Homo sapiens: one gene and its partner. The main gene of each other region encodes a partner of the protein of the gene in region 2 in a complex. Each region holds a gene or a part of one and is shown on either strand. Other genes may lie near its edges. The genes, in order: CASK and LIN7A.

What was found.
Region 1: LIN7A (region 2) and CASK share a complex: the UniProt entries of both Homo sapiens proteins name them as parts of the brain-specific heterotrimeric complex.

What each region holds. Positions count from the first base shown.
Region 1 is NC_000023.11:41,506,249-41,521,734, forward strand, and holds the end of CASK (peripheral plasma membrane protein CASK), read right to left. Parts: intron 14,349-15,486; coding exon 14,172-14,348; 3' UTR 8,686-14,171; downstream 1-8,685. UniProt on the Homo sapiens protein: Multidomain scaffolding Mg(2+)-independent protein kinase that catalyzes the phosphotransfer from ATP to proteins such as NRXN1, and plays a role in synaptic transmembrane protein anchoring and ion channel trafficking.
Region 2 is NC_000012.12:80,934,935-80,951,160, forward strand, and holds the start of LIN7A (protein lin-7 homolog A), read right to left. Parts: upstream 3,001-16,226; 5' UTR 2,789-3,000; coding exon 2,707-2,788; intron 900-2,706; exon of another isoform or gene 802-899; intron 1-801. UniProt on the Homo sapiens protein: Plays a role in establishing and maintaining the asymmetric distribution of channels and receptors at the plasma membrane of polarized cells.

The DNA of each region.
Region 1 (15,486 bases), on a different chromosome or scaffold from region 2:
TCACTCCAGCAGACACACCCGACTCCAATTCCTTCCCCCAACCCCTGTGCTGGTCGGCTTCTAGGCTGCCTCTTCTGGAGTGGGCAAATGGCACCTGAGGAGAAGTGGCCTTCAGTGCTCTCTCCCTCCCTTGGACATCAATTTTCTCCCAGATCCTGGCCCAAACTATCTTGTTAGTTTGCAAAAGTTTCCAAACAGATGTTTTAAATATTTCAATCATCAGCTGCTTTAGTTGTCTTAAGAATGAGGATTGGGTCCAAATTACATAGTGTGCTATTCATGAAATATAAAATATATATATATATTTTTTTAATTTTGGAGATGGAGTATTGCTATGTCACTCAGGTGGGTCTTGAACTCCTGGGCTCAAGCGATCCTCCTGCCTGAGCCTCCCGAGTAGCTGGGATTACAGGCGTGTACCACCACACCAGAAAAGTGAATTTTTGAAGTTCTTTATAAGTTCTGGATGGCAGTTCCATGTGCTGCTAGTGTCTCCAGGCCTGTGGCTTATCTTTTTAGTTTGTTTATGGGAATTTTTTTTTTTTTTTGGTTAAGAGACAGGGTCTCACTCTGTGGCCATGGCTGGAGTGCAGTGGTGCAATCTATAGTTCACTACAGCCTCAAACTCCTGGACTCAGGCCATTCTCCTGCCACAGCCTCCCAAAGTGCTGGGAGCACCTAGCTTGTTTATGCAGATTTTTGCAAATAAACTTTTCAGTTTTCAATTTCAAGAGATTCAACTTTATCAATCCTTTTCTTTCATAACTTATACATTTTGTGTATATATATGTATATATATGTATATATGTATATATACGTGTATATATATGTGTATATATATGTGTGTATATATGTATATATGTGTATATATGTATATATATGTGTATATATGTATATATGTGTATATATGTATATATGTGTATATATATGTATATATGTGTATATATGTATATATGTGTATATATGTATATATATTATATATGTATATATGTGTGTATATATGTGTGTATATATGTATATATGTGTGTATATATGTATATATGTATATATATGTGTGTATATATGTATATATGTATATGTGTGTATATATGTATATATGTATATGTGTGTATATATGTATATATATGTATATATATGTGTATATATGTATATATGTGTATATATATGTATATATGTGTATATGTATATATGTATATATATATAGCCCAATATGTGTGTGTATATGTGTATGTGTGTATGTGTATGTAATATTTTAAGATTTTCACAGACCTTTCAGCCATCTAAAATTTTATTTTTTATGTATCATGAGGTAGGGATCTAATTTTATTTTTTCCATATGAATAATTCTTGAAGAGTTCATGATTTCACCACTACACTGAAGTCCCATCTTTTTCTTTTCTTTTTTTGAGATGAATTCTCGCTCTGGAGTGCAATAATGCGATCTCAGCTCAATGCAACCTCAGCCTCCTGGGTTCAAGCGATTCTCCTGTCTCGGCCTCCCGAGTAGCTGGGATTACAGGCGTGTACCACCACGCCCAGCTAATTTTTTGTGTTTTTAGTAGAGACGGGGTTTCACCACGTTGGCCAGGCTGGTCTCAAACTCCTGACTTCAGGTGATCTGCCTGCCTTGGCCTCTCAAAGTGCTGGGATTACAGGCGTGAGCCACCGTGCCCGGCCTGAAGTCCCATCTTTGTCATCTTCAGTTTTTCATCCGCCCAGGCTCTGTTTCTGGGATCTCTATTCTGTTCCTAGGGCCCTGCACACTGTGTTCACTACTTCACTTAAGCTCACTAATATATTTTGTTCTCTGATTGGACAACTCTGCCCTTAAGATGTTTATGCTTTTCAGCCTAGTACAACTCTGCCACTGCAGTTTGTTTAGATGAACAAGCTGTGTAGCTCACTTAGCTGAAAATTGCCAGCTTGAGTTCTTAGGCAGAAATCCAAAGCACTTATTGGGATGAATAAATTATTCGGACTGAATTTCATGTCTTGCTATGAGGTGTCCTTTGACTTCGTCCCTTTTCCTCTTTGCCACTCTGTGAGCCCCCAGTTCTCAGGTCTGGCTGGCTAGAGAAGGGTGTCCTCGCAGGGAAGCAGAAATGTTCCCAGGCTCCTGATGGTGGCAGCCAGGCCTAGTGACATGGTGAAAGCGGACCCGGAGAGTGGCTGGCGTCAGCCATTCCCAGGCCATGCTCTCTGCTACGCTCCCATCAGGCAGCCATAAAAGAAGTGCTCAGGTTGATTCACTTTAAAAACTGTACAGAGGCTGGGCACGGTGGCTCAGGTCTGTAATCCCAGCCCTTTGGGAGGCCAAGGCGGGCAGATCACCTGAGTCCAGGAATTCAATATCGGCCTGGCCAACATTGCAAAACCCCACCTCTACCAAAAATACAAAAATTAGCCAGGCGTAGTGACAGGCGCCTGTAATCCCAGCTACTCGGGAGGCTGAGGCAGGAGAATCACTTGAACCCAGGAGGCGGAGGTTGCAGTGAGCTGAGATCACACCACTGCACTCCAGCCTGGGTGACAGAGTCAGACTCTGTTTCAAAATAAATAAATAAATAATAATAATAAATAAATAAAATATTACAAGTAGACTTGTAAAATAAAGAAAAACTTCATTGATTATCCTATCATAAAGCACTGTTTAAATTTGGGGATATTTAGTAATATTTATGGTTAAGAGCCCTCAGGTCAGAGGACTCAGGGTGGAGGTACGCTGAGGCATGCAAAGCACTCAGTGACCGGAACATCAGAGTGACGGCTCAGTCAATGGTACTGATTGCCTTTTTACAAAAATTTTTTAATCAGGGTTTGCTATGTCGCCCAGGCTGGTCTCAAACTCCTGGCCTCAAGTGATCCTCCTGTCTAGCTGGGATTACAGGCGTGAGCCACCACACCCAGCTTGATTGCCTTTATTTTTATTTATTTATTTAGAGACAGGGTTTTGTTGTCACCCAGGCTGGAGTGCAGTGGCGCAATCATGGCTCTCTACAGCCTCGACCTCCTGGGCTCAAGTGATCCTCCTGCCTCAGCCTTCTGAGTAGCTGGGACCACAGGTGTGTGCCACCATGTACTGTTTGCCTTTATTATTTTAATTTTTTTTAAATTTACTTATTTATTTTGAGACGGAGTCTCATTCTGTCACCCAGGCTGGAGTGCAGTGGCAGGATCTCAGCTCACTGCAACCTCCACTTCCCGGGTTCAGGTGATCCTCCCGCCTCAGCCTTCTGAGTAGCTGGGACTACAGGCGCATGCCACCACGCCTGGCTAATTTTTGTACTTTTTGTAGAGATGGGGTTTTGACATGTTGCCCAGGCTGGTCTCGAACTCCTGGGCTCAAGCAATTCACCTGCCTCAGCTGCCCAAAGTACTAGAATTACAGGCGCGAGCCACTGTGTCACTTACATTTTCTTGATCATTGAGATATTTTTCAATGTTTTTAATAGTAGCTCTCTGTATAGTCTGTGCAATGTTCATCATGTCCTTTGTTCATTTGTTGGAATGTTAGCATTTTTAACCACTTTATGTCTTCATTGCATAATAAATATATTAACTCTTTGTGTATTATATTTGCTGTAAAATGCCTTTCTTTTCTGTTTGTGGTCTACAAGTTTTCATATCAAAGCTGTAATGGTTTTGGCCGGGCGTGGTGGCTTATGCCTGTAATCCCAGCATTTTGGGAGGCCGAGGTGGGCGGATCACCAGGTCAGGAGTTTGAGATCAGATTCCTAGCCAACATAGTGAAACCCCGTCTCTACTAAAAATACAAAAATACAAAAATTAGCCGGGTGTGATGGTGGGCACCTGTAATCCCAGCTACTCTGGAGGCTGAGGTGGGAGAATTGCATGAAACCACAAGGTGGAGGTTGCAGTGAGCCGAGATCACGCCACTGCACTCCAGCCTGGGCAACAAGAGCAAAACTCCATCTCAAAAAAAAAGAAAAGAAAAAAATGCTGTAATGGTTTCATGGGGTCAAATCTTTCAATTGCTTTCTGACTTTTTTCTCCGGCATAAGGTTAAAAAGTTACCCTCTTCCAGAGTTTTACTGACTACTCATTCTATTTGTTTTCATTTTCTAGCACTGAATTTTAATATTTAACTCTTTAATTGGGCTGAAACTAATTTTGGTATACATATATATATATATATATATATATATATATATATATATATATATAATTTTTTTTTTTTTTTTTTTTGAGACCGAGTCTTGCTCTGTCACCCAGGCTGGAGTGCAGTGGTGCAATCTCGGCTAACTGCAACCTCCCCCACCTGGGTTCAAGCAATTCTCCTGTCTCAGCCTCCTGAGCAGCTGGAATTACAGGTGTGCCCCACCACACCCGGCTTATTTTTGTATTTTTTTTAAGTAGAGATGGGGTTTCACCACGTTGGCCAGGCTGGTCTCGAACTCCTGACCTCGTGATCTGCCTGCCTCGGCCTCCCAACGTGCTGGGATTACAGGTGTGAGCCACCGCACCCGGCCAATGAACAGTCATTTTATAAAGGCCCAGAAAAATCATTGTGTGGCATTTGATTTGGTATTATATTAAGCCTACATTAATTTGGAAAGAACTGATGCCATTAAAACATTTAATTCTTTCATCCAAAAACATGTCTCTGTTTATTTGCATCTTTTATATTCTCAGTGCAGCTTTGCCCTTTTCTCATATCGATCCCATGGATTTGTTAGTTTGAAAACACTTGTTGCATTTGAGAATGGCATCCTTTCCCCATTTAATTTTCTAACTTTACTGTGAATATACAAGAATGCTATTGATTTCTGGGTGTTTTTGTATCTGCTCTTTATTATTTATTTATTATTTATTTTTTGAGACAGGGTCTTGCTCTGTCACCCAGGCTGGAGTGCAATGGCGCAATCTCAGCTCACTGAAACCTCCACCTCCTGGGCTCAAGTGATTTTTCTGTCTCAGCCTCCCGAGTAGCTGCTTTGTAACTCAGCTACTTGTTGTCTGGTTGTCCTTTTTTGTGTTTCAAGGTATACAATGATATTATTAGCAAATATGGACAATTTTGTGTCTTTTCCAATGGTTATACTCTGTTCTGTTGTTGAGAAATGCTTTAAAAGCAATAGTAGCATTTTGGGAGTCTGAGACTGGCAGATCGCTTGAGCCCAGGAGTTTGAGACCAGCCTGGGCAACATGGCAAAACCTCGTCTCTATAATAACAAAATACAAAAATTAGCCGGGCATGGTGGTGCCTGTAGTCCCAGCTACATGGGGTGATGAGGTGGGAGGATGCCTTGAGCCCGAGTTTGAGGCTGTAGTGAGCTGTGATCACACCACTGCACTGCAGACTCGGTGACAGAGTGGGACCCTAAAAAGATAAATAAATAAAAGCAATAGTAAATAATTATGATGGAGGAAGATATGTTATGTAATAGAACAGTGTGTTTAGTATGACTTTCTTACTGTATTAAAAATATGTATAGGGCCAGGTGTGGCTCACATCTGTAATCCCAGCACTTTGGGGGGCCCAGGTGGGAAGACTACTTGAGCCCAGGAGTTTGAGACCAGCCTGGGTGACATGGTGAAACCCCATCTCTACAAAAAATACAAAAATTAGCTGGGTGTGGTGGCACAGGCCTGTAGTCCCAGCTACTGGGGAGGCTGGGGTGGGAGGGTCACTTAAGTCCAGGAGGTTGAGGCTACAGTGAGCTGTGATTATGCTACTGCACTCCAGCCTGGGCAACAGAGTGAGAACCTGTCTCAAAAATGAAAAAAAAAACCAAAAAGCAAAACATATATATATACACACACACACACACACACACACACACACACACACATACATAAATTTATACTAGCCTGCTAGCCTGACAGATATACATAGATATGTTTATAGCAGTTGGCTCTGCATAGCAGAATGTGGTTGAATCTCCCTTTTTTTTGTTTGTTTATCCATATTTTCTAATCATTCTATGATGATCACGTGTTATTTAATTTTTAAATAATGGCAATTTTACTGCTTTTGTTCTGTCACTTCTAGGTGGATTATGTTGGCTGTGGGTTGAAACAGTTATTCTGTATATGCTAAGAATATTTCCTATCTTATTTTTAAGGGTTTTTTGTTTGTTTTTAAATTAGAACTGGGTGTTGAATTTTGTGAAGTGATTTTTTTTTGGCAGCTGCAAAGATGATCATGGTTTTCCTTGTTTCTTTTTTGTAACTGAGACATATTTTACAGAAAATAGAATGCACAGATCCTAGGTGTTCAGTCTGATGTGTTTTGACCATTGTATACACCCATGCAACCACCACTGAAAACAAGAAATGAACATTTCCACCACCCCCAGAAAGTTCTGAGGGAAATTCTGTGGTAAGCTGTTGATCTGTGTGGCTAAGCTGCTGCCACCTGCTTTGTACATGGTCTCCATTTCCCCATCTCCGGCCTCAGTTTAACATCCTGCAGGCCCGAAGCCACTTTTTTTTTTTTTTTTTTTTTTTTTGAGACTGAGTTTCCCTCTTGTCACCCAGGCTGGAGTGCAGTGGTGCAATCTCCGCTCACTGCAACCTCCGCCTCCCGGGTTCAAGCGATTCCCCTGCCTCAGCCTCCTGAGTAGCTGGGATCACAGGCATGTGCCACCACACCCGGCTAATTTTGCATTTTTAGTAGAGACAGGGTTTCTCCATGTTAGCCAGGCTGGTCTCAAACTCCTGACCGCAGGTGATCCGCCCGCCTTGGCCTTCCAAAGTGCTGGGATTACAGGCATGAGCCACTGTGCCCGGCCTGAAGCCACTTTTGAGGTCCCAGCAGGCTGCCCCCTCTGTCACTCTCAAGTTGTTCATCAGACCATTCTGGTGGCAGAAAGGAGCCAGATTCTCTGCAGGGCAAGTGGCCATGGGGGGAGGGTTATAAAGCTGCCTTTGGAGGAGCGAAGAGGGCAACAGCAGTAGATTGAAGCTTTTCAAGATCCTGCCTAAGAATGCATCTATGGCAAAAACATTTCTGGGCACCACCGCCTGAAAGGTTTATTTTTTAATTTTTTTTTGAGATGGAGTCTTGCTCTGTCACCCAGGCTGGAGTGCAGTGGCACAATCTCGGCTCACTGCAACCTCTGCCTCCCGGGTTCAAGGGATTCTCCTGCTTCAGCCTCCTGAGTGGTTGGGATTACAGGCACGCGCCACCACGCCCAGCTAATGTTTGTATTTTTAGTAGAGACGGGGTTTCACCATGTTGGCCAGGCTGGTCTCGAACTCCTGACCTCAAGTGATCCACCCGCCTTGGCCTCCCAAAGTGCTGGGATTACAGGAGACAGCCACTGCACCTGGCTTCAAAGGTAATGATGGGTGAGGAGATTAGGGAATACGTGTGGTGGGTGCAGTATTTCCGACAGTGCCACAGCCATGGGATTTTATCTGCAGGCCCCATGCCTTGTGTGTGTGCTCACTTGTTGTTAAAGTCACATACCACTTTCTGGAACATTCTCTCCCAGAGCATCCCTTCCTTTAGTGGCTGGGTGGCTTACTTGCACTACAACACTGACCTTTCATGGGACTTGCAACCTTCAGTGACCTTGAACTCTGTCTATTACCCTGCACCAATCTCATTGCATTCTTTCTGCATGATGTGCTGTTCATAGCGGTTCATGGAATGATCCCTAGTGTTATTTCTTCAGTTTATCATGTTATAGCAAATTGGGCAAAAACACAGAAAAGACATGTTTATATTTTTCGACCAGCTTAATATTACCATGTTGGATGTGTTTTAAATACCATGAAGTTCAAAAAATGAGCTTAATGGTAGCATTTTGCTTTCCGTCCTCTGTATATCTAGGGTAAGAAGTCTGTACAAAGGTAACAGGATTTTCTGAACTAAAAGGCCAGGGGCTCAAATTTTGGGTCTGAATGTGGCCTAAACTCTTCTATACAATTTTTGTAGCGTGATATTTATTTGAGTAAAGCAAATAATCACTGGTAGTTTATGTTTCCTTCGTATGTGTCTTCTGAAAGTGAGCCAGGTAAGCTCATTCAGGCCTGGGCTCTTTCTAGGGTGTGTGTGACACATACAAGTGTTGTCTCTGAAGCCACCATGGTTCCTTGCTTGGGCAAAGCGTAGGGCAAGGGCAGGGAAGGAATCGTGTGTAAACCAGGTTAGTGAGGCACGCCAGGAAGCATGTCCCAGACTCCAGCCAGAGACCAAATCAAACCATGAAATCACAAAGGCACTGGGCGGAGCGGCAGTCCTGGAGCAGGCGTCCTCCCACGGCTCTTGATGCAAATGTCAACCAAGGGCCACATTTTCCATGCTGTGGCACCTACACCACCGAAATCAATTTAGACTTCTATTTCTAGGAGATGTCACAACTTAGACTTTTTCTTTTTTCTTTTTTTTTTAAGATGAAGCTATTTTAAGCCTGCATCCAAATGCAAGCAACTGAGCTGGAACTGCTTGCAGGATGCCGTCTGTTAACAGCCATGGCTGAAGACTGAAACCTGCAGGATGGGCACCAGGAGCCTGGGTCGTGCTCCTTTACAGGGCCAGGAGCTGTCCCTCTGCAACACCCCCACCCCACCCCAACCATTGTGGGAAGGTGTCTGAGGCCTAACTGTGTGGATGAACTCTGCAGAGGCCTTTAGAAATCAGGCCATCCCTCTTCTTTTAACCCTCTGTTGTTTGTCCCCAAGCTGTTTGGCCTGCAATCTGAGGAGACAACTGCCTTTTCATGTTTTATACATTTTATTCATACATTTCTCCAACTTTGAAATGACAAAAGCCCAATTCTATGGTTTCCCATTACACAGCATCCTACAGGTATGTATATTCTACAAGGAATACTATGGAGTTTCTCTTCTTCCCCTGTCACACAAGATAACTGATTAGGGTTTCATCAACTTGTACTGTGCCGGCAGCGCACCAGCATTCTGGTTGTTCCGGCGACAGGGCAAAGGGATCAGGATGGGAGGGCGTGTGCTAAGGCATGTAAATAGATACACACAGAGAGAAAGAAAAGCAGGACATTTACAAAGAATCCAAACCTTTCCAATCCCTTCAGCTCCTGGGTGTTGAGGGACACCTCCTGCACAAACGCTCTTGCAAGCTAAGGCTCTGCTGTACCCTGCAAATACTTACAATTGGATACGGTGAAATATACAACAACCATTAACATCTCTCTCTTTTTATCACTGAGACAATACTTCAACACCTTTTATAAAAAGGCAATAATACATACAGAAAAAAGAACACGTTGGCAAAACTTTATGCAAAACCACCCCAGAACTGAGTTTGAATGGCGACGTGCCTACACTGCAATTAAACACGATACTCGGGTCTTAGCACGTGAGGATTGGGCGGCCTTCACATCAGTCACGCTGCCTGCTGCACCCGGCAGCCGCCTACCTGCCTGCACAGATGACATTCCGGGAAACAGCTAAGACTGGAAATCAATTCCCCCAATTCTTGGTCTCTTCCAAATAAAAAAAAAATAGGGGGAGCCACTCACTGTGGAGGAATGCCTGTTTCTGTTCCCAAGGACAATTCTCGCTACAGAGGTTGTACTTCCTCTGGGTCCAGAGAGGGTCACCCCTAAGCCTCTGTCAGTAAGAACACTGGCGTGTTCTCTCAGTCACACACCAGAGAGAATGGAGCTAACACATAAGTAGCAGCTAAATTCTGAGTTTCTGAGCATACGCAGAGATGGAGTTGTGCTTGGGGCCAGAAAGGAGGTCTCCTGTGTGGTGACAAACATCTCTTTCCATTTTCTTTTGCTCAGTCCATTTGCACAGGTTCGAGGGAGTTGATGGAGGGTCAGACGAGAGGTGGTGGGAGCTCAGGATTTTCTATTCCCACAAAGAGCTAAGACTTAGGAGTGCTGGCCCCAGAGATGGTGCGGCCCTCTTTCTACTTCTGTTTCTGTGGGCTCTGTCTGCCCACCTGCTGCACAAAGCAAGGCAGGGGAAAGACCGGATGGGAACATGGTGGTGAATATCCTCTTTTTTTCCCTTTTCCCCCACTTCCTGGATGTAGGTGACAGCTAAACTTCACCCACTAAGCTGGAAAATCTGGGACTCCCCATAGCTCCAAGTTTAAGGCAAACTGATGTGTGTGTGCACAGGCAAAGCCAATCAAGCCATGAGCTTGGAGGAGAGTCCTGTATCCAGAGATTCCAAACAGAGAGGGAAATCTTATTTCTAAAGGAGTTAGAAAAGGAAAGGCTCTGGCAAATGAAATGATCTGTGATTAAAGCTTGTAGCCTTTCTGTAAGCTGCAGTGAGAAGGAAAGCATCTTTTAATAGAAGAATTAATTAGAGGCGCAGAACAAGAAAGCCACGCTCAGGGACCTTTAACTTATTACAGCCTGTAATCGCTCTCAGTATTGTAAGCCCTAGTCAAGAGGATGGAATTAGGAGGCTGTGTTCAGTTCTGAGAAAACAAGAAACACACACGAGTTTGATAATAGGAAGCAAGAAGGAGGAGGGATGAGGATGACAAGGAGCTTGGTTTTGGAATGCCGATTCCAAGGTGCCTTCTCTTTTCAAAGAGACAGTGTGGGAGGCATTTCTATTAAGAATTTGTTAATCAAGCAGTTTTCTTGGTAGCTTTAGCAACACATTCTCTTTGCCCCAAGTTAAGAAACTGGCCTGAAATGAAAAAAAAAAAGGACATGACATCAGTGGGGGACAAAAGAGAGCTGGCTTTGGGCTGCCTTGTTTTTCAGGGGCAGTTTCCACGCTGGGAATCTTCCTGGAGGGTGGTTCAATTGACTAAACTTTTTCAAGAAATAAACTTGAAGCCTTAATGAAGAGACAAATACAAGTGATTTAAAAACAAAAGAACTCTGCAGCGATCAGATCAAAGGCTGTAAAAAGGTAACAGTAGCTGCAGCCCAGGCCTGCCTGGAGCACAGGGGAAGGCTTGGCCCACTGGCTGTCTCTAGCAGCCTAAGAAGGAATTGGACGGGGAACAGGAACACCTCCTGCATTTCTACTGCAGTGGGGGACTTTGCGACATCTTTAGATATTCTGCCACCAATAGGATGGGCTGGGACGATGCCTTCTGAATGCAAATAGCAAGAAGTAGGTCAACCATTTGTTTTCCTCTCTGAGCAAAGATTTTAAATCATCTCACCTGACAAGAGATACATTTAATTGCATTTAAAAAGGCTACAATGTTATCTTGACACTGGGAAACTTCCAGATGAATTAAATTGAGTGACATTTCCCTTTTTAGCATTAAAATGGGATATGCTGTATGTGCAAAGTAATTACTGTCTTGTGACTGGAAAATCAGGACATTTCATCTTTTTAACAAAGAATTCAACATATAAAAACACTCCCTTTCTTGCTGTGGGGAATGGAGTTGGGTGGGGGAGAGAACCTTCAAAATGTGGCTCTCCAATACTTCAATTGACCACTAATAAGATTTAGTACTCTAAACATTCATTCTGGTCTTTAAAAGAAAGAAAGAAAAAAAAAGGTTCTGCTGATGGAATGGAAGCAGTAAAGAAGCTTTTAGCAATTTTCTCTGATTGCTTAGTGGACAATTGTAATGTAGCAGTAGCAGCAGCAGCAGCAGCAGCAGCAGCAGCAGCAGCAGCAGCAGCAGCAGCAATGTACTGAAATTACTCTGAATTCAGAAATGTAAGTATATGCAGCTAGGTCATAAAGACACTGCTTTAGAGAAGACATGTATTAGTGGAATGGAACAGGTAACATCTTTGAGAAGTCAATGAGTTCTGCATGCAGGGATTTCACCATCGGAATGATGGCAAGAATGATGCCTGCCTGTGTGCTTCTCAGAGGACGTATAAAGCCACTGAGGATGAGTGCTACAGTGCTTGTGAATTGTGGGGCCACAGACATTTAAGTTGGCATTGCTTTTCTCCTCCTCTGCTTAATCCACCTTTATAAATATGGCAGATGGCTTAAGACAGGCATCATCAGCATCTCTGGAGATGTGGGCTCAAAGGGCAAGTGGGGGCGTGGGGGTTTCCACTAGAGGGAGGGAAGTTTCTGTTTCCCATGTGTTAGTTGTAGTTGTCTTTGTGCTTCACCAGAAAAGAGGTAGAGTGCGCACCTTCACACTAAGAGCCCGAAATTGTGGTCAGTACCATACCAGGAACGACTGTCTGGCCTTGGCATCTATCAGATTCGAATCAGTTCTAACACAGCCCTACCCAACTCTTTGAAGGTTTCTCTCTCTATCTAGTGTGAGACCACTGTTGAGCTTATCTCTGGTTTGGTGGCTTGGTCACCCCACTGTGGGGCCCATACAGAAGTAGTTCACTCAATACCTTGTTAGTAAGTTGCAGACTCATCTGGTCACTGGCAAAGAACAACATCAGAAAAAAAAAAATCGCCACCATTTAATAATAGGCGGTGGGGGGCGGAGGCGGGTATGGTGTTGACAATGTAAAAGAAGTATACTAATGCCTTCTCTGTTTGGTCCTTTAAGAGGAGCTGTTCAGCTCAGAACACACCCTGCACATCCTGCCAAGGCACAAAGTGACAAGGCCATCTAACCTACAAGAAGCAAAAAATGATGGTATGTTTTCAAGGATCACAGGTTAATATAAGCACTTCACACCCTCACATGCTAATGAAAAACATTCTACTGACCTCTGGCAAAGAGTCTGAGAACCCCAGCCCGAATCTCCTGTATTGGAAGAATGTGACTTCATGGAAGAGTTATGAGATGGTTAATGTCTCTAAAGCAACAAGGACAGATGATTCCCCTGTGCCAAGGGATACAGCAAGAGGAAGGAGAGACCACAGGTGGCCTCCAGTACACCCGTGGCCCTTGGGCGCATGGCTCTGTGCGAGTCAGACGTGGTCCAGCTGTGCTCTGGCAGGCTACTTTGTCACCCTGCCAACTGATACTCACTCCTGGGCCTTCAAAGGTTCAATGAGCATCTAACAAATTATACAATTGTAAAGATTATCAGCTTGGAAGCCTGAACAAATCTATAATGAAATGAAGGACCCAAAGGCATTTAATTATTGAACACATAAAAGGAAGTATATTTAAAAAAAATTGGTCAAACTGTCCTGTTAGTTATCATTTTAAAGGAATTTACAGGGCTGTTATAGATGATTCTTTTGGAATATTTCAGTTTATAGCAAATGCCTAAACTGGTTTCTTCATTGCACAGTATTTTCTCTTAAAATGGGTGCTTTAAAACAATTACATACAGATTAAAAATCATTTCTTTGCTTAATTAAAACGTTAATACTCTTAGACAACACAGATCTGAAATGGTGAAACCAGCAATTCCCCCCACCCCACCTTACAACAAATTAAATTGAGACAAAATTACAAACACATTTCACTACATGATTATTATTAATAAAAATCAGTTTCTTTTTTTTTATAAAGTTGCCCAAAATGCAAGGGATGTGCATAGGTTTACAACTTAGTCATAATAGCATTTTATTCTTATTCCCCTGGGTGTGCCCCATGAACGGAATGTAGAATGTACTTTGCTGTAGATTACAGATTGTTTTGTCCAACACAGACACACCGACAGCATAAACGCTCGCGACTGTCCACATGCATTAAGAGTCAAGACCCAACTTCAAATCTCTAAAAGGTTTACAGGGTGCTTCAAAGAGACAGTATCACATTATCTGGATGTTACATAAAGGACTTAAAAAAAAATACTATTCTAAAAAAAAAAAAAGAGAGAAAAAAGGCCTTTAAAAATTTATGACTGTTTTGTAATCACTACACTAATTATTTCAAATAAATAAAGGAAAGAAAGATATCCCAATATTCCAATCCATAAAATCAGACTCTAAAAAGAATGTAGTGTTCCACCCCCAGTCAAGGTAACAGAATCATTGTTTATTATTATTAAAATAGATTATAGAAAGCAGCATCTATTTTGTGCAGTTTTTAGGGGCCTTGGAAATAAAAAGCTATGATTTCCAAAAATATAACATTCCAAAGGATTGAATAATACATACATTTAAAGATACATTTTATTAAAGTTTAGGAGAACTGATTAAAAAAGATACTGTCTCTTTAAATTAGTGTGTAATTGTTTTTCTCCTCCTATCTATTCGGACATGACAATAATTATAAATGTAGGTCACACTACAACTAGGTAGTCTCTAGGGACCATGACCTGCTGACACAAGGCCGATAACAAAGAGGCTTTTCCACAAATGAGGTGCTCCCAGTTATGCTCAGATATCTGGGGAGAGGCCTAATAGACCCAGGAGACAGGGACCCACTGTGGGGCTGTGCACACGAGCTCAACAGCTTCCTCCAGATGTCTGATTGTCTCATCAATTTCATTGTTGATAATTGTGAGATCGAAGTAGTGTGCATATGTTCTCTGTAAGATGTCAGACTCCTTCTGCAGACGCTGAAGAGATTCATCCTAAATGGTGATGAGATGGAGGTAGGGGTGGGCATGAGAGGAGGGAAAAGCAAACAGAAGAGAGAAATCAGTTGGATTCGTTCTCTTTTCACATTTTTGTTCATCCCAGTGTCAGAAACAGTCAAGGCCAGACCCTGATATGCCATATGCCAGCATGAGGCCAAGTCCGCTCCATGACAGAGGAGACAGTGATTGCTCAACATGCAACAGAGGGTCCATGACAAAGCAGACGAACCAGAGAAAACAGATACTCTTCAGGAAACATGCCACCCCCACTCAGGCCTAGCTGTGCCTGTCCCCAGAGTCAGGCTTGGTAGGGCCATGCCAGGTGTGGGTTACAGTGGCTATGGTGGCCCAAACAGGCCAGCAGGAAGCCCCCCGCCCTAGCCTCAAGCCACTCTCCCAATTGGCGAGAGGGCTACGGTGGCAAGGCTGGAGCTCTTTGCCCCCGTCCCCTTGGTCCTCCACACTCACTGGAGCCAGGCCTCAGGGCCCAGCTGTGTTTGCACCAACAAGTCCCTGCCCTTGGATGACAAATTAAGTTGTATTTTTTCCTCTTCTACTTAAAGGTGCCACACGTTCTAGGAATTCAATTACATATAATGGCCCTCACTCAATAGCAGCTGATGCCAGAGGCAAAAGATCTTTGAGTGTTACAAATAATGGCTGGAATAAGGCTGTTTCCCCAATAAACAGCACCTGGCATCTGATGAATCCCCCCAAATTGGTCTGCATTAGAAGTGGCTAGACAAATGTCACTGTTCGTAGGTCCTCATATCTCTTATGAAAAAAACAGAAGGAAGAGAACTCTAGGGAGTACTGAACTCTAGGGAGGTTTGCTGCAACAAAGGATGTTCCCTAAGCTGCAGCTTGCCACAGATTTTAAGAACTCTTGTAAGAGGGATCCAACAGGAGGAGGGAGTTTAGGGTCCCAGCTTTGTCATGCAAGTATAGCTTCTGCTACAGAGTGGCAGTTCTTTCAAGACAGGGGTCTCTTAAGAGCCACCAGAAAGAAGTCTGCCTCTATATCTTCGCAAGTCATATTTGTCATGCTGAACTCCCAAAGGGCAAGTTCAACCTTGACACTAGGGAACTTTGTGAGTCAAATTAACCACCCCCTACCTGCCAAACACTAGGT
Region 2 (16,226 bases):
TGACGGCAATCCATCAAGTGTATAGGGGAAAGCTAGGTTGAGAATCTCTGGCCTATGTTATCACTATCATCCTTTCCATGGTTAAAATACTGTGAATCTATGAAATGCACCTCAGTTCACTAGGAAATCACTATATTTTAACATTGCTTAAGTTACTGCTATCCTGAGTTTACTTACACCAACTTAACATTATTTTTTTATTGTACTGTGAGTCAGGGACTATAGCAGACACTGAGAATTCAAAGATGAATTTAGAAATGGTCTCTTCCCTCACGGAGTTCTATCCAATAGGGATAGACAAATGCAACAGAGTGTGATAAATGCTTTAATGGGGCCAAAGCAGCAAGTCAATTTAGAGCGCATCAAAGGGTACCAAAGCAGCCTGGGAGAGAGGTGATCTGGAAAATCTCCCAGTAGGTGACCAAAAACTGAGTCCTAACTCTAATTAATTGAATTATAGACTGCTAAAGCTGCACAGTGTTAGAATCATCTAATTCAAACTCCTGATGTGGCACAGAGAGAATCTGATGTCCAGAGAGGCTGATGTATGCAGAGTGAGTATCAGAGTTGCAGCTAGGACCCAGATATGTAATACTGGGTTGCCTCTTTAAAAATGCACCTTTTTTGAAGGGAAATTTTTAGAACCTTTTCCTTCATCAGTTTAATAATGAAAGTAATTAATCATATTTGAATAAGATACGGAGAACAATATTTATATATATTGACTTTATGCTCAGTGGTGATGCCAATAACCCATCATCTCTTGGTTATAGATTTTCCATGAGCTGCTGATGAATTTTTTCAGACTCATCCACAGGGTAAACCTGCTTGTCTCCTGAGCTACTGCATGTACGTAATTACACTCAGAAGGACAAGTAGAGTTTGGCTGTGAACAAGAGCAAACTTTAAAAATAAATCTTAGTCCGATTAGCACCTCCTCTCATCAACCGACTGAGGCATCTAAGGGCTAAGGTAAAACCCAACATTGAAATATTTGTATTATTAGTAGTAGTGGTAGTATATAAAATGACCCAGGTATGCAATCTTCTTGGAGTTTTTGCTCCTAACATAGTCACTTGATTTGGGATGTTTAACGACTGTGATTTTGTAATGGGACAATATAAGAGCTCATTACATTAAAACATAAATACTTGGGAAGCTCATAGTTTCTGATAGCTTGCCATCTGTTTGGTTCTTACCGGCAATGGATTTATCCTGCTTAGTGCAGATGATGATATTGTGGGTAAAATCATGGATTATACAATGGATTTCTGAGGTCTTTAACTACTGTTATTAATTTTGCCAGCTTACAAATCAACATTTTCTAATATAAAATCAATTACATTTTATTTTTCAACTCTTACCCTAAGAAAGGTTGCTATGGGCACCACAGAACATCTGTTCTGGCGCCAACAGATTGCGTTAAAGTCACCCACAGTCTCTCCAAATTAAAAACCTCAAACTGAGTTCACTGGCTTTGTTACTGTACTCTCAGCAGGATGTTCTTTTGCCTTGCCCATCGTTCAGTTTAATCCTCTAGAAAGAAAATTTTTAGAGGTACATCGGACTAAATCATTTTCTTCTGAGTACACCATTTCCAAATGGCCGCCCAGGGTCCTAAATCCGGCGGCTGCGGAGAGGGACTAGAGGGTGTCCTCCTCTGCAGAGCCGTAGGACTCGAGCGCCTTCATCACTGGACGCTGGAGCCAGGAAGGAAACCCACACACTCAGGGACAGGTATAACCCCACAGGGGTGCACCAGTGAGGCCCCGATCGCAGCGGAGGACTCCATCCCTGAGCTTGTGAGGGCGTCCTGGGGAGGAAGCGAACACTTTCCCCGTTCAAGTCAGAGAGCAGGACTCACTGGGTGGCAGGTCAGAAGTTGAATTTTAACCCGACCTGCGCTTTGTCCCCGCGCCTTCCGCAGCCTGGGCGCCGCGGTGGCACCGAGCTGGGAGAGGACACGAGAGGCTGGCGCGGGAGAAGCCGAGAGTTGCTATCGACCGGGAGCTGCCGGCGGCGGGAGCAGACGCGACCCTCGCCGCTTTCGATCTCGAAGCCGCGGAGAGCCGATCTCGGCTGCTGGGGCTCGGCTCCCCGCGCTCTGCCTTGCCCTTTCGGCAGAGGGCAGCTCCCTGCCTGCTGCAGCCCCGCCACTGTGCGCCCGGCAGCCCAGGGGTGCGCCCAGCCCGCCCCCCGAGTGGCCGCCGGGACTCCAGCAGTTGGACCGACCCTCGCCCTCCGGCGCCTGGACAAACTTCCTTCCTCCCGGGCCCCTGCGCCAAGCAAGCTGACAGGCGGCTCCCTCGCCGGTCTCCTCTGGGCTCTGGCCGGGCGAGCTTGCTCTCTGCCCCTCTCCAACCCCGAGCCCCTGGCGCCTATAGCCGTCCCCGCGCAGCGGCTCCAACAAAGCCAGAGGACCGGAGACGACCCGGCGAGGGGCTGGGAGTGGCAGCGGGGACCCCAGAGCCAGAAGGAGGCGTCCCCTCGGCGGGGCGAGTACAGTGGGAAGGGGCAGCGGGAACGTAGCGGGGAGAGAAAGGGGAAGAAAGTGTTCTGTTCTCGGCGCGAACGCCTTCCTGGCTCGTCCTCGTTCCCCTTCTCCTCCTGCCTGAGCGCGTCCCATGTCCCGTTGGGAATTGGCAGGCGGGGAAGGGAGGAGGGGAGAGGGGACGCGGTGGCCTGGCGAGCGAGCCGCTCCCTTACCTCTGTCCAGGGTGAGCGGCTGGACCACTGTCAATGTCGCCATGTCTGCCGTGGGAGCCGAAGTGACGCTCGGCTTCAGCATCAGCAACCGCTCGTAGTGAGAAAAAAAGGAGGAGATTGGGGGCGGGGGTGGAGAGGGAAGACGGAAAGGAGGGGGAGGAGGGGGAAGGAAGGAAGGTGGTGGTGGTGGAGAAGAAAGCTTGGGTGGGTTGGTAGCCAGATGGAGACGCAACTGTTCCGCGGCGGCAGATCTTCAGTTGCGGTGCGGAGCTGAGCAGGTATCCGAGAGCGACTGCATCGCCGGGCTCTGGGAGGGAAGGCTCTGCCCTAGAACTTTGCTATTCCACCCCCAGGAGCGCTGGGTGGGTGTAGCTGGCGGGTTGCTTCCTTTCAACTTTCCACTCTAATAAAATGGTCAGAATATACGTGTGTGCATGCGGGTGCGTGTGTGTATAAGGGGAAGAGAGAGGATGGAAAGGGGATATGGGGAAGGGAGTGGGAGATGAGTTTTCTCAGATTAAGAGAAATTGCCAATCCAATAATCCCATCCCCTTTAGAGAGAAAATGCTTCCATTATCAGAAATGTTTGGGATGTAATTACATTTGCAGTTAATTTCTGTTGAAGTTTTTCGGAATGTTGACCTATAACGGCATATAAAGATAACTGACTAAAGGCCAGCGTTCCATCAGTAGATGTTCATTTAGGACCTGAGTATATTGCCTGGAGAAAAAAAAAAAAAAAGGCAAACCTCTTAAAAGTGCTTCAAAATAAAAAACGTGTAGGTAAGTTTCTATCGCTAAGTTTTTCTTTTTCAAGCCACTGTTAATACATTACCAATTCAGTAAATGTAGCTTAGAAACAAGTACAGTGTTCAGATTTTCTCCGAATTTTTTACATACCACATCCTGTAAACATGCCCCACTCCCCCTCACCCACCCAGCAACAAAAACTTTGCTCTTAATGTCCAAACTGATTTTGGTTGTCTATGACTACGTTTGAAAAATATGTACCTAGCACTTTTCATGTTGATTTCTAACCAGTGGTTCAGAGATGCCACTTATCGATTGATTAACATATATGCCAGGAATTGAGATAGAAGAGTTACATTGCCTTGTGCCACGCCTTGATTTAGGAGTTCAATTTAGTCTCCGACTTCCTGTAGCCTGTAATCTAGTGGGAGATGGTGTTATTAAAAACCTGACTTTAGAGTCAGTTGATCAGGATTAAATTACGAGAGCCTTCAAATACTGGCTGTGACCTCTTCGCCCCAATAAAAAGGCTACTTTCACTATCTTGTCATAGTAGGGATTCATTTCCTGACTACGAAATCAAGAAACATAAAGAAACCTTCTATAAGCTGAATAGGGGTGACTGTGGGTGCAGGATTGGAAATGACAAAGCTGCCTCCATCTTGTTTCCTGTGACAGAGCTGAATTGTTTGGGCTAACAATAAACTCTAAAAGGCAGATACTGTTTTATAGCAAAATATTTGCATATAATTGATGCCATTTTCTTCTGATTACAGATAGGATTTCTGAAGGTCTTTTTCATTTTATAGTCTACAATTGAATTTTAAAAAACAACATTTCACCAATGTGGGAAAGCCAAAGATGATTGGCCATATATAGACTTAACAGACCCTAAGAACAAACCTAAAATAGTAGTTCGATATGTTTATTTTTATTTAGTATTTAAGAAAGAATGCTGATCTTGACATTTGAGTCTTAGTCATGTACTCTTCGGAAGTCACACAATCTCTCACTGATCCTGTTTCCTCCTCTGTCATACAATGGAAATAATATCATTCAATGTCACAGAGATCTGTCATATGAGGAAACTAATTCTACCTTGCAATCTCACAGAGTTTTATGAGGGTCTAATGGAGTCATACATGTGACTGTGCTTTGAAAACAGTAAAGAATATACAAATTTATTTATACAAGCATACATCCCCTGGAACCGTGTGGTAAGCTCTGTGCTAGGTGCTAACCATGCAAAGATTAATGAGATGGCCCCCTTTCTGCCCAGTCTTGCTTGGGAGACAGTGAGCAAACCATAAGCTTCTGTGCAGTACTCTAAGCACTATTAAAAGGAAGTGCCCTCGGTGGCCAGAGGTTGCAAAAACAACTTTGGTTTTTTACCGTTATTCACATGCCCTGAATTAAGCAACAGAAAGAAGTTGAGATGAGCGCAATGATACCAGAGTGTGTTACAAGCTTTTGCACAAAGTTATTAAACCTCACTCGGTAACTGAGGATAAAAGAACATACAAATCCCTTGACTTCTAATGTAGTTATTTTACAACATCCTTTATTAGGGAATATGTATTTAAGCAGCTTGATTCATCAGCCCAAAAGTCATAAATTGTACCCATTCCAACACAAATCCCTGATTGTGGTGTCAGTGAAGGTAGAGTTTTCTTTGTCTTTTTGTTTCCTAATGCATCCTCAGGACTAAACATTTCATAGCATATTTCTGGACTTCTGCCTTGAGCTTCCTATTTGAAATTTGCTCTGTCATTCTTTCTCTGTGTTGACTCTGTAGGGTTGTTGTTGTTTTTAAATCAAGATTAAAAGAGAAATTAAAAGGAAGCATAAATCACCATAAATTCATCTGTTATTATTTTTAGTAGTGGAAAGTTCATTCCCTTTAGCTTATGTCTACACAGGTGTAGAAAATTAATAAAAATTCATTATCCATTAGAATTTGTTTTTATGAATAAATACTATCTCTCCAATAATATTTGTGAATTTCGTTTTGAGACATGCAGGGATATACTTGATCTAGTCACATGCCAGTTGCTTTGCTGTGTATTTACCTGAGAATTGTTAAAATATTTGTAATTATGCTTTTATCTTAGCTATTTGGTTACAAAATCACTACACTCTTTCATTAAATGATATGTAGAAATTTAGTTTAATGGTAACTATATTTTCATGGAGTTAACTAATTCAATAAATACTTATTGAGCACTTATATGTGCCAGACTTGGTGCTAAGTTGGTCTCTCTTTCCCTTTCTTTCCAGCCCAGAGAAGTAGGTATTTTTATGCCGTTTTGAAGATAAGTAAACTGAAGCTCACAGAGGTTACACAACTTGCTTAAGAATAGTAGCACCTGGCTTCACAATCTCCTGTGCTTTCCACTAAGAAACATCACACTTTGTTCTTTTTTTTTTTTTTTTTTTTTTTTTGAGATGGAGTCTCACTCTGTCGCACAGGCTGCAGTGCAGTGGCGCGATTTCTGCTCACTGCAACCTTCGCCCGCGGGGTTCAAGCGATTCTCCTGACTCAGCCTCCCAAATAGTTGGGCCTACAGGCGCCCGCCACCATGCCTAGCTAATTTTTGTGTTTTTTATGGAGGCGGGGCTTCACCATTATGGTCAGGCTGGCCTCGAACTCCTGACCTCAAGTGATCCGTCTCCTCAGCCTCCCAAAGTGCTGGGATTACAGGCATGAACCACCACGCTGGGCCTCATCACACTTTATTCTATGTTGTTGAAGATTTAGTGATTTCAGCCTTTTATTTCAGAATTCCAGATAAGTATATATATGGTTATAAAATCTTTTAAGAGATATATAAATATATATCTATTAAGATATATATTTTTAAGAGATATAAATATATATTATAAATATATTTTAATATAATATTAATGTATTTAATACATGTGAAATATATTTAATACATATATATGATATATTATATGTATATATACACACACACATGTCTTTTCTCTCTCTCTTTTATTTTGTGTGTGTGTTGGCTTGAGACATAGAGAGAGGAATGGATGAAGGGAAGTTAGGTCAAAGGACAAAAGAACTATGATACTGGTTCCATTATATATACATATAGGTTAATATTTAAACAACTGCCTATTTGATATATAAAATCTGTTCTTAACAAAATCATTCAAAGCTATGTTAAGGTCGGTTTCACTTAATTGAATTTTTAAAAATTATATGACAAAATCTAGAGAAGGTTTGCATAGAGCATTAGCATACCAAGGAAATGTGTTTAGTTAGATTATAAATGAAGTATAATGAGCACAGTTTCATATGAGAAAATAGCACCTTCAAACTGGAGTTCTTTCAGCCTGGGTGTTAGAAATTGTTTTTGACTGATTCAAGATAACATGTTATCTTTCTTAATTCATACAGCTTTGTCAAAACAGCACTAGATTAAGATGAAGTGCCAACCAATACTTTGAAATTTAAATGTTTATTTTTTAAAACCATCATAGAATATCTTACTATATTTAGTTTATCTTTTTTTTTTGATAACTACTTATTTGTCTGTTCATTCAACAAACACTTAATATACTGACTATATGCCAAGCACTGTACTAGGCATTGGGGTATTGCAGTGAAGAAGAAAAATTTCCTGTTCTCACTTGGCTTGTATTCTCTAAGGAAGAGAAAGTCAATAAACAAACAAGAAAGAGAGCAATTAGTGACTAAGTATTGTGCAAAGAATGAATAAATTGATGACTAAACTAGATCTAGAATAATGTCAGAATTACAAAAGACAGGGATAGGGAGAATGGCCTTATAGGGAGCAGGAGAGAAAAGCCAGGGATGAGGAAGCAGGCACAGTGTGTATTTGGGTAAAATCGGCAGTTCATTTTGGAGTATAATTAAAAAAAAAACAAGCCTAAATAGAGCTATTGAGAGTTAGGTGGTGGAAGGTAATATAATTAATGAACAGAAATACAATGAACCTTTCATTAATTTCTTTGTGCCAACCATACAATAAAATGTATGAATACAATCTATGCTAAGAAAAATATTTGTATCATAGCATCTGCATTAAAAATTACTAACTTCAGAATGAAGAGTTACTAATTCAGAGTTAGATGTTAAAATATTTCGGATGAAATTAAAATATTAAAAGTAAATTCTAAGAGTGGGCGCGGTGGCTCATGCCTGTAACCCCAGCACTTGGGGAGGCCAAGGCGGGTGGATCACCTGAGGTCGGGAGTTCGAGACCAGCCTAACCAACATGGAGAAACCCCGTCTCTACTAAAAATACAAAATTAGCCAGGCATGGTGGTGCATGCCTGTAATCCCAGCTACTCGGGAGGCTGAGGCAGGAGAATGGCTTGAACCCAGGAGGCAGAGGTTGAGGTGATCTGAGATCACGCCATTGCACTCCAGCCTGGGCAAAAAAAAAGCAAAACTATCTCAAAAAAAAAAAAAAAAAGGAAATTCTAATTATTATTATTTTTTATTTTCTCCGAAAGAAATAACACTTCTCTGTTTTCACAGTTAGAAGTTATGACTGATCTTTCAATAATGAAATTTAAATTCAAAGCTTAGTTTTTTGTTTTTCTTTATTCATCCCAAATTCATATTTACATCTCTCGCGAATGTCTAGAAATACAAGAAATATTAAACAAACTAATTTTTAAAAGTAAAGCAGTCTCTTCTCACATTTGCTCAGGAGATGATATTTCTAAACTATTAGAACTCACAAACTTTAACAATTTAAAAAACATGTTTATTACCATTGTCATCTAAACATTTTAAATATATTTAACAGTGAGTAAAAAGTTACGCTTTTGTCCAACAAATTAAGCACCTGCAATATGCTAGGCACTATTCTGTGCCTGGAACTTAGTTTTGATGAAGAGAGACAGATAAAATACAAATTAGCCATTCAATCAGATAATCTTAGATATTGATTATCATGAACATTGATGTGTTGAAGCCTATTCACACTGTATGTGAGACCCAATAATGTGCATTTTGTCTCAACATCACTTTCAGTTATATCACATTGGTATCTTTTGATTGACCATGGTGGCAGTATTTAAACCATTGGGATTGGTAAATACTCTATTCCAATTTTTTTTTCTCCCTCTAGAGAGCCACTTGTTAAACATTTACCAGCATACCACAAAGTATATGATGACAATAAAATAGGATGTTGTGATGAAATATACAGCAGGGAAAGAGGTTACTTTAGAGTGGTCAGGGAAAAAGTCACATTGTACTTAATAGAACATTTTTTAAAATAACAAATCTGCACTGCACTTGATGTGTATGTACTGACTAGGACACAGGACTAGAGATGGAGTTAGAAGTAGGAGACATTCATATTTTTATGGAGTTTACAAAACAATTGGAAAATAAAAGCATAAAATTAATTACAAAATGATATATCAATAATAAACAATACTATAAATTTATATGTGTTAAAGGGATACAGAAATAAAAAAGGTAAGTGTGGATTGTGATGACTTTCTGGAAGCAATTTATGTTGACTTCCAGAAGAAACTTAGAAATATTTACTTTCTTGCATGTAGATAGGAGAATGTTTTACCTTTGAGCAGAGAGAGCTACTCTTTGCAACTTTGAATCAGAGGATTGCTAAGTAGACCAGGAACTTCTTCTTCTTCTTCTTCTTTTTTTTTTTTTTTTTTGCATTCCTGTATGTGTTTTATTTCATTTTTATTTTTATAAAATAAAAGGAATCTAAGGAATTTCATAAAAAACTAAAGAAAGAGGAGGGGCAAAATGAATATAATAGAGTCTCAGTGTGGCTGGGGAATCTTACCATGGTGAAGGGACAACACTGCCACCTGATACTTGGAAAGGACATTAATGATAGCTAGGACTTGTTTGTTTGGGACGCTGGCTTTATTTAAAACATGGTTAAAATGGCTTTCTCTTGAGGAGCACCTCAATATCTGACTTCTATCCCTTTAAATATAGCTTAACTTACTCCTTCCACCAGCAAAATTTATCTCTAATTTTGGTAGTATGGAATTAATGAAAGATATTAGGAAGAAACAGATGAACAGGCCATCTTCAAATTCTTCACATTCTTACACTGAACAGTAATTGGGGCTAGTAACAGAATTTACTCTAAGTGTGCTGGGAAACATACATGTCAGTAATTAGCAAGTTTAAGAGCTAAATGCACAATTAGCATGGACAGCACATTCAGTAGAGAATTCCAAACTCTCTTTAGTTTTATCCTCCAATGCTCTAATTTGGAGCAAAAAATGCTATAATTTTAGTTAGTTTATATTTAAATATCATCTTTCTGGGCCCAGCCTAAAACATAGAGTGCCCTTTTCTCAAAACTAATTAGGAGGATCAAATTATGCTCCTCTAAAACTGAGTTCCTTACTCTCAACTTCTGTGGTTTCCTGGCTTTTCTGGTCCTGGAGGAACTCTTACACTCTTGCCCCTCAGGTGGGCCTTTCTGACCCTGTAATCTCCTTATACCATTCCTGAGTCTATGCCATTACACAAGGCAGATCCACTTCCTGAAATGCAGTATCTCTGAGAAGTTTCCTCTTCTAAAGTTTTCTTAATTTTGCTTATTGCTTTAAGCATTTACTCACATAATAAATCCAGTTGTGACTTTATTGTAGTCTTTTAGGGATTTAACTAGAATGGGAGCAAACGAGGCAATTGAAGATGGTTTTAACTCTATGTTAGTATCTCAAGGCTCCTGTCACCCAGAATATTGCATAGATTAATTGTGGTAAACCAACCTGAATATTTTTATTTAGACCTCAAATCAAAGAAATCCCCAAAAAGTAGAGACAGCAAGCAAATCTCTGCCATCTTTATCAAGGTAAGATAAGCAAACAAACTATTAACTCTTTTATATATCTTATATATTCTTTCCTTTACAAGAGTTTTTGTTTTGGAATTTTAAACATAAGACAATGCACATGTCAAACAATTCAAAAGGTACTGCAGAAACCCACTCAATCACAAGTCATCAATGTTAAGAAGGATTTTTTTTGTATATTTAATACCATATATTGTATGAAATATATATAACATATATTACATGTGCACATATCTTTTTAAAATTCCAAGTAGAATTCTACTGTGCACTATATTTTGCATATTTATTTATTTTATTTTAGTGATATTTTCATATCAATACATATAGATCTATATAATTCTTCTTAACTACTTCATAACATTTCATTAAAATAGCCTGTCATAGGTGTACTCTCCGGTTGTTTCTAGGCTTTTGCTATCTCAAACAGGGCTATGAATGAAAATCAGTCTTGTTTATAGCATCTTTATAAACATGAACTCCACTCAATTATGACCTTGTCATTTTGAATAATCCAGTGCTAATGTGGCCATTTTCAATTTTGTGCTTCCAGATTATAATACCTGCGATGGATTTATTCCTGCTTCATTGCATGCATTCTTTCATATGCCATTTGTTACCACTTATTTATAAAAATGTCATATTTAATTGAATTTATAAAACCTAAAGTGATTAAAAGCAAAAAACTAGTCACCATAGACTGATGACAATTTTTCCATTTGAAATACGTGGTATCATGCACTATCCAGCTGACTATTCAGTAAGTCAAGAGATCATGACAATAATTTTCTACTAAGAAACAAATGGTATATATGTCTGAAGGAAGATAAAAATTAAAAGCCTAAAAGTACCGCTTTTTGCAGTGACTCACGCCTGTAATCCCAGCATTTTGGGAGGCCAAGGCGGGCGGATCACAAGGTAAGGAGATACAGACCATCCTGGCCAACATGGTGAAACCCCGTCTCTACTAAAAATACAAAAATTAGCTGGGCCTGGTGGTGCACACCTGCAATCCCAGCTACTCAGGAGGCTGAGGCAGGAGAATTGCTTGAACAGGGGAGTCGGAGGTTGCAGTGAGCCGAGATCGCGCCACTGCACTCCAGCCTGGTGGTGACAGACCAAGACTCCAACTAGGAAAAAAAAGTATGTATTTATCATGTACCACATGATGTTTTTAAGTATATACATCACAGAATGACATGTCTAGCTAATTAACATATGTATTAACTCATCATATTATTATTATAGTGATGAGAACACTTTACATCCACTCTCTTATGTCAAGAATACATAGATTACTAACTGTAGTCATTATGCTGTACAGTAGAGCCACTTTTAGATATTTGTTTTATTGAACATTTTATTTCCATTAAATGAAATAGTATAGGAACACAATGAAAACACAGAGATGTTTAAGTACTTTCATTTTCAAATAAAATGACATGTTGATTTATTAACTGAATCAAAAAGCTAAGTACAACTTAAAACAATAAATACTATTCTTTCATTAAATTTTATTAGTAGTTAGTAATGCAAAGACTATTTTAAAAGCTAGTGCATATAGTGCTCTCTACTGGCCTTATCTTTATTACAACTACAATCAGTGTCGAGTTTGTAGTTATATGGGAACCATCATGAAAATCTTCTATACTGCAACTACAATCATCGTCAAATTTGTAGTTATGTAGGAAACATCATGATAAACTTCTGTCTCCGAAGACTAATAGTATTTTAATTTTAATTTCTTTTTGTTTTCTCCTTTAGGGGTGTGTGTGTGTATATGTATGTGCATTCAAAAACATTCATTCTTGAACTTCTATACTGAAGTCAGTTGTGAATTCTGCAAATAAGTTGCTGGCATACATCATCACAAATAATCATGTAATAAAGAGAAAATACAAAAAAGATGGATGTAGAACAATAACCGAACTGAAAACATTATGCCTTACATAAGTCAGTAGCAGCTACAATGCTTGCTTTTATTGTCTTTGGAGAAAACAAGTGAAGGCCTCCCAGGAGCAGAATGGGTGGGTGTGTATATTTAGGAAATCATGGTGGACAGTGACCACCATCATAAGCTCCTTTCTTTCTTTCCTCCAACACTCCTTACTTCCTGCACCATCTTCTAAAGACTCCAGAAATCTTACTGGTGCTTTTTTAAAGCTTAGGAAAAAATGTTGGAGTGGTTATGAAAGACATTTGCTTCAGGAGAAATAGAGAGAGAGAGAGAGATTGGTTCATTTATTCTATAATTTCATGTCTAGTTGATACTAAGTGCCACATGCTGTGCTAAGCACTAAACATTGAGCGGTTTTCAAAACCACCAATACCCAACTGGAATTATTGGTATTTGTAGGAATTATTCCTCAATAATATAAATGCAATTGAGGAAAGTACATCGTGCAATGAGAAAGCCTGTAACTGGTACATAAACCGATCTGGGATTCAGAAAGGATATCTCCAGAGCAGTAACACTTACGGTATAATGTGAAGAATGAGTATTAGATGTTAACCAAGCAAAGGTGAGGGTTGTAGAGACCATTCCAAGATCAGGTACCCTATGGGGTACCTTAGGCATGAAAGCACTTGGCCCTTTCAAAAAGCAGAGAGAAAGGTCAATGTGGCTTAAGGAAGCAGAACCAGAGAGTCTGCCAAGCTAAGGTAAAAATAACAGGTCTTGAAAGCCACATGAGGGATTTTGGATTTCATCCCAAGAGAAATGGGAAGTTATGGGAGTAGTCTTAAATAGCAGAGTAAGTGAAATAAAGAGATTTGTATTTTCTTTAATATCTGAATGCAATGTGAAGAGTGATCAGGGTGCAGGGAGCAGGTATAAATTAGAAGTGACCATTAAAGAGGTTATTCAGCAATCCAGGTAAGAAAGTACAGTGGTTTGGACTACAAAGATGGAATTGAAATTCAATGAAGTGGATGGATCCCAGAAATGCTTGAAGGATAACACCCATGGCCTTTGGTAAGATTGTATGCAAGTGGTAAAGGAGACACAATATTAAAAAGTGCCTCCTAGGCTTCTGACATGAATGAATGGATAAATGGCGGTAGGAAATATTGAAGGAAAAATTGGGAAGAAAAGTTAGTTTTCAACTTATGAAGTTTGACATCAAAGTTTGACACTTTTGAGATGTCAAAATGGTTATGTCATAATTGATGAACTATGAGTCTGTAGCTAAGAAAAGTCCTGAACTAGAGGTATAAACTTGGAAACCATTTGAATTATAATTGAAATTACTAGAGAGGAGGAAACCACACAAAGAAAGACTACTGAATGGGGAGTGTCTCACACTAAACCCTGATGAAATCCTACATTTAAAGTTCATATAAAGGAAAAGGATCCAGGAAAGGAGAAACAAGAGGTAGAAGGAAAACTAAGAGAGACTGATAACATACACAGCAAGGGAATACAAAAGAAATGGGCGCTGTGTCACAAGCGCTGCTGAGAGAATAAGAGCCAACCTGAACAAAGACCCTGGATTTAGTGATATAAGAAACAAAGCCATGTACTGAGACCAAACTAGGTCTGAGAAGAGTACAGAGTATTGAAATAAATATTGCATAGAGGTTTTTTTTGTTTTTCTTTTTTTAAGTGTGTGTGTGTGTGTGTGTGTGTGTGTGTGTGTGTGTATATATATATAAAACTTACATATATACACATATATGTGTATATATAAGTGATATACATAAGTTATATACATATAATGTGTATATATATGTTATATATATAGAAGTTATATATATAGAGAGAGTTAATAAAATGTATATATATAGAGAGAGAGAGAGAGAGAGAGAGTTAATAAAAGTGGATCGAGGTCCAGGTTTAATCAGTTTTTGAAGGATCTGCTTCACCTGAGTTGATGGATACTGCCTTGGCCATATAGGTTCTTCCATTCTCAATCCTCTTAAATGCCAAAATATGGACTCTATGAGTAGCTTTGTGAATTACTTCTTTTAATAGTCTTCAAAGTAATGCGTAATACTCTATAGTTCGGCTATTGCTTAGTGGCCTCAATTTCTCCATAGAGCACTGAACTGATTTGGAGCAGATGATCTTTCCCATCATGACTGCCTGACTGAGTAAACGTGGATGGAGGAAACCCTCATGACTCCAGGAAACTTCCTGTTCAGGATTTTCCAATGTGGCCATCATTTTTCTAAAGCAATACACTGCTAATTCTATATTGTTTTATGATTAATGTTTAGTACATGATTCTAGGCCTACTAAAATATTTGAAGCTGATTTTTACTTCTTTATTTCTATTTGATGTTACTTACTATGCACCCATATACATTGATTCTGTCTTTGGTGCACACAGAGAGAAAGCAACTCAAAAAAAAAAAAAAAAAGAAAAGAAAAGAAAGAAAGACAGCCCTGATATTGACAAATATATCATAGAACAAGTTGCATCCATCTGAACATGTTGCTCCAGAATCAAGACAAAATATGAAAACATTTTTGAGCCATAATGGAATTTGATACTCATTACGAGTATCAAATTTAACCAACAGTGGAAAATGAAATGAGACCCAGAGAGATTATATCAACTGCCCCACTATTCCTAGTTGGTGAGGAACAGGGCTGAGACTGAAGTCCAAGTTTCAACCAGTCCAGTGCCCTTTATACTACACTGTGTTATTACACTAGATTGTAAATTCCACAAGTAGAGGGACAATGTTTGTTTGCCACTGCATATTCATTGCTTGGCATTTTACTGATACCCAATAAATATTTGTGAATAAAAGAAGTAGAAGGCCAGCACAGTGGCTCACGCCTGTAATCCCAGCACTTTGGGAGGCCAAAGCAGGTGGATTGTTTGAGCCCAGGAGTTCAAGAACAGTCTGGACAACATGGTGAATCCCCGACTCTACAAAAAAAAAAAAAAATACAAAAATTAGCTCAGCATGGTGGTGCGGCCTGTAGTCCCAGCTCCTTCAGGTGGGGTTTGAGGCAGGAGGATCACTTGAACCCAGGAGGTCAAGACTGAAGTGAGCCATGATCACACCACTGCACTCCAGCCTGGGCAATAGAGCAAGATCCTGTCCCAAAATATAAATAAATACATAAATAAAAGAATGAGTAAGAGAACAATATACTGCCCAGCAAATAATCTCCATTTAAAATACATTTTACAATGGAAAATCAGTTCAACTACAGTTATTAACTGCTCACTTTGTACAAGATGTTTTATCTACTATGTTCTATGGAGATTTACAAGAAAAAAATAAATAAAATGTGGCCCTTGCCCTACAGGAACTTAATATTTATCACAATTCTCTGCAAAACAGGGTAGGACATGGTAAGCACCACCATATATAAGAGATATGAACACAGTATTACATGGAACATGGAAAGCTTCATGAATATGGTGGTATTTATGCTGGATCTTTTAAAACAGAAGAGTTTTTAGGTGGAGGTAGGATTGAAAAACATTTCAGTTGAACTAAACAGAATGTCTAAATGTACACTCAGGAAATGATGGTATGTGTTTTATTATTGAAACAGTCTACTTGTCTGGAACATGGGAGACATGAAGGAAAGTGGAAACCTGTGAAAAGTAGAAAGAAGCTGGTAGAAAAGGGAAAAGAAAGATACCACAGGGGGCTCTGAGAGTTACCTTAAGGAGCTTAAGATTCATTCAGTCTAAAGCTTTTTGAGCAGGAAGGTGACAGGAGGTCCTTCTTGCCAGTGTATTAAAACTTATTATAGAAAAATGATGATGAATTTTAAAAAGGTATAATTACAGAATGTCAAACAAAATTATCCACATGAACTAATGATATTCTATGTTAATATGAAGAGAAGAGATTCATTCTCAGGTCATGGAGACAGGCCTTCACACCACACTACAGCTTGACTCATTGGCTGGATGGCCCTCCATACAATTTTCTTCAATGTTCGCTATGGCAGAAATGAAAAAA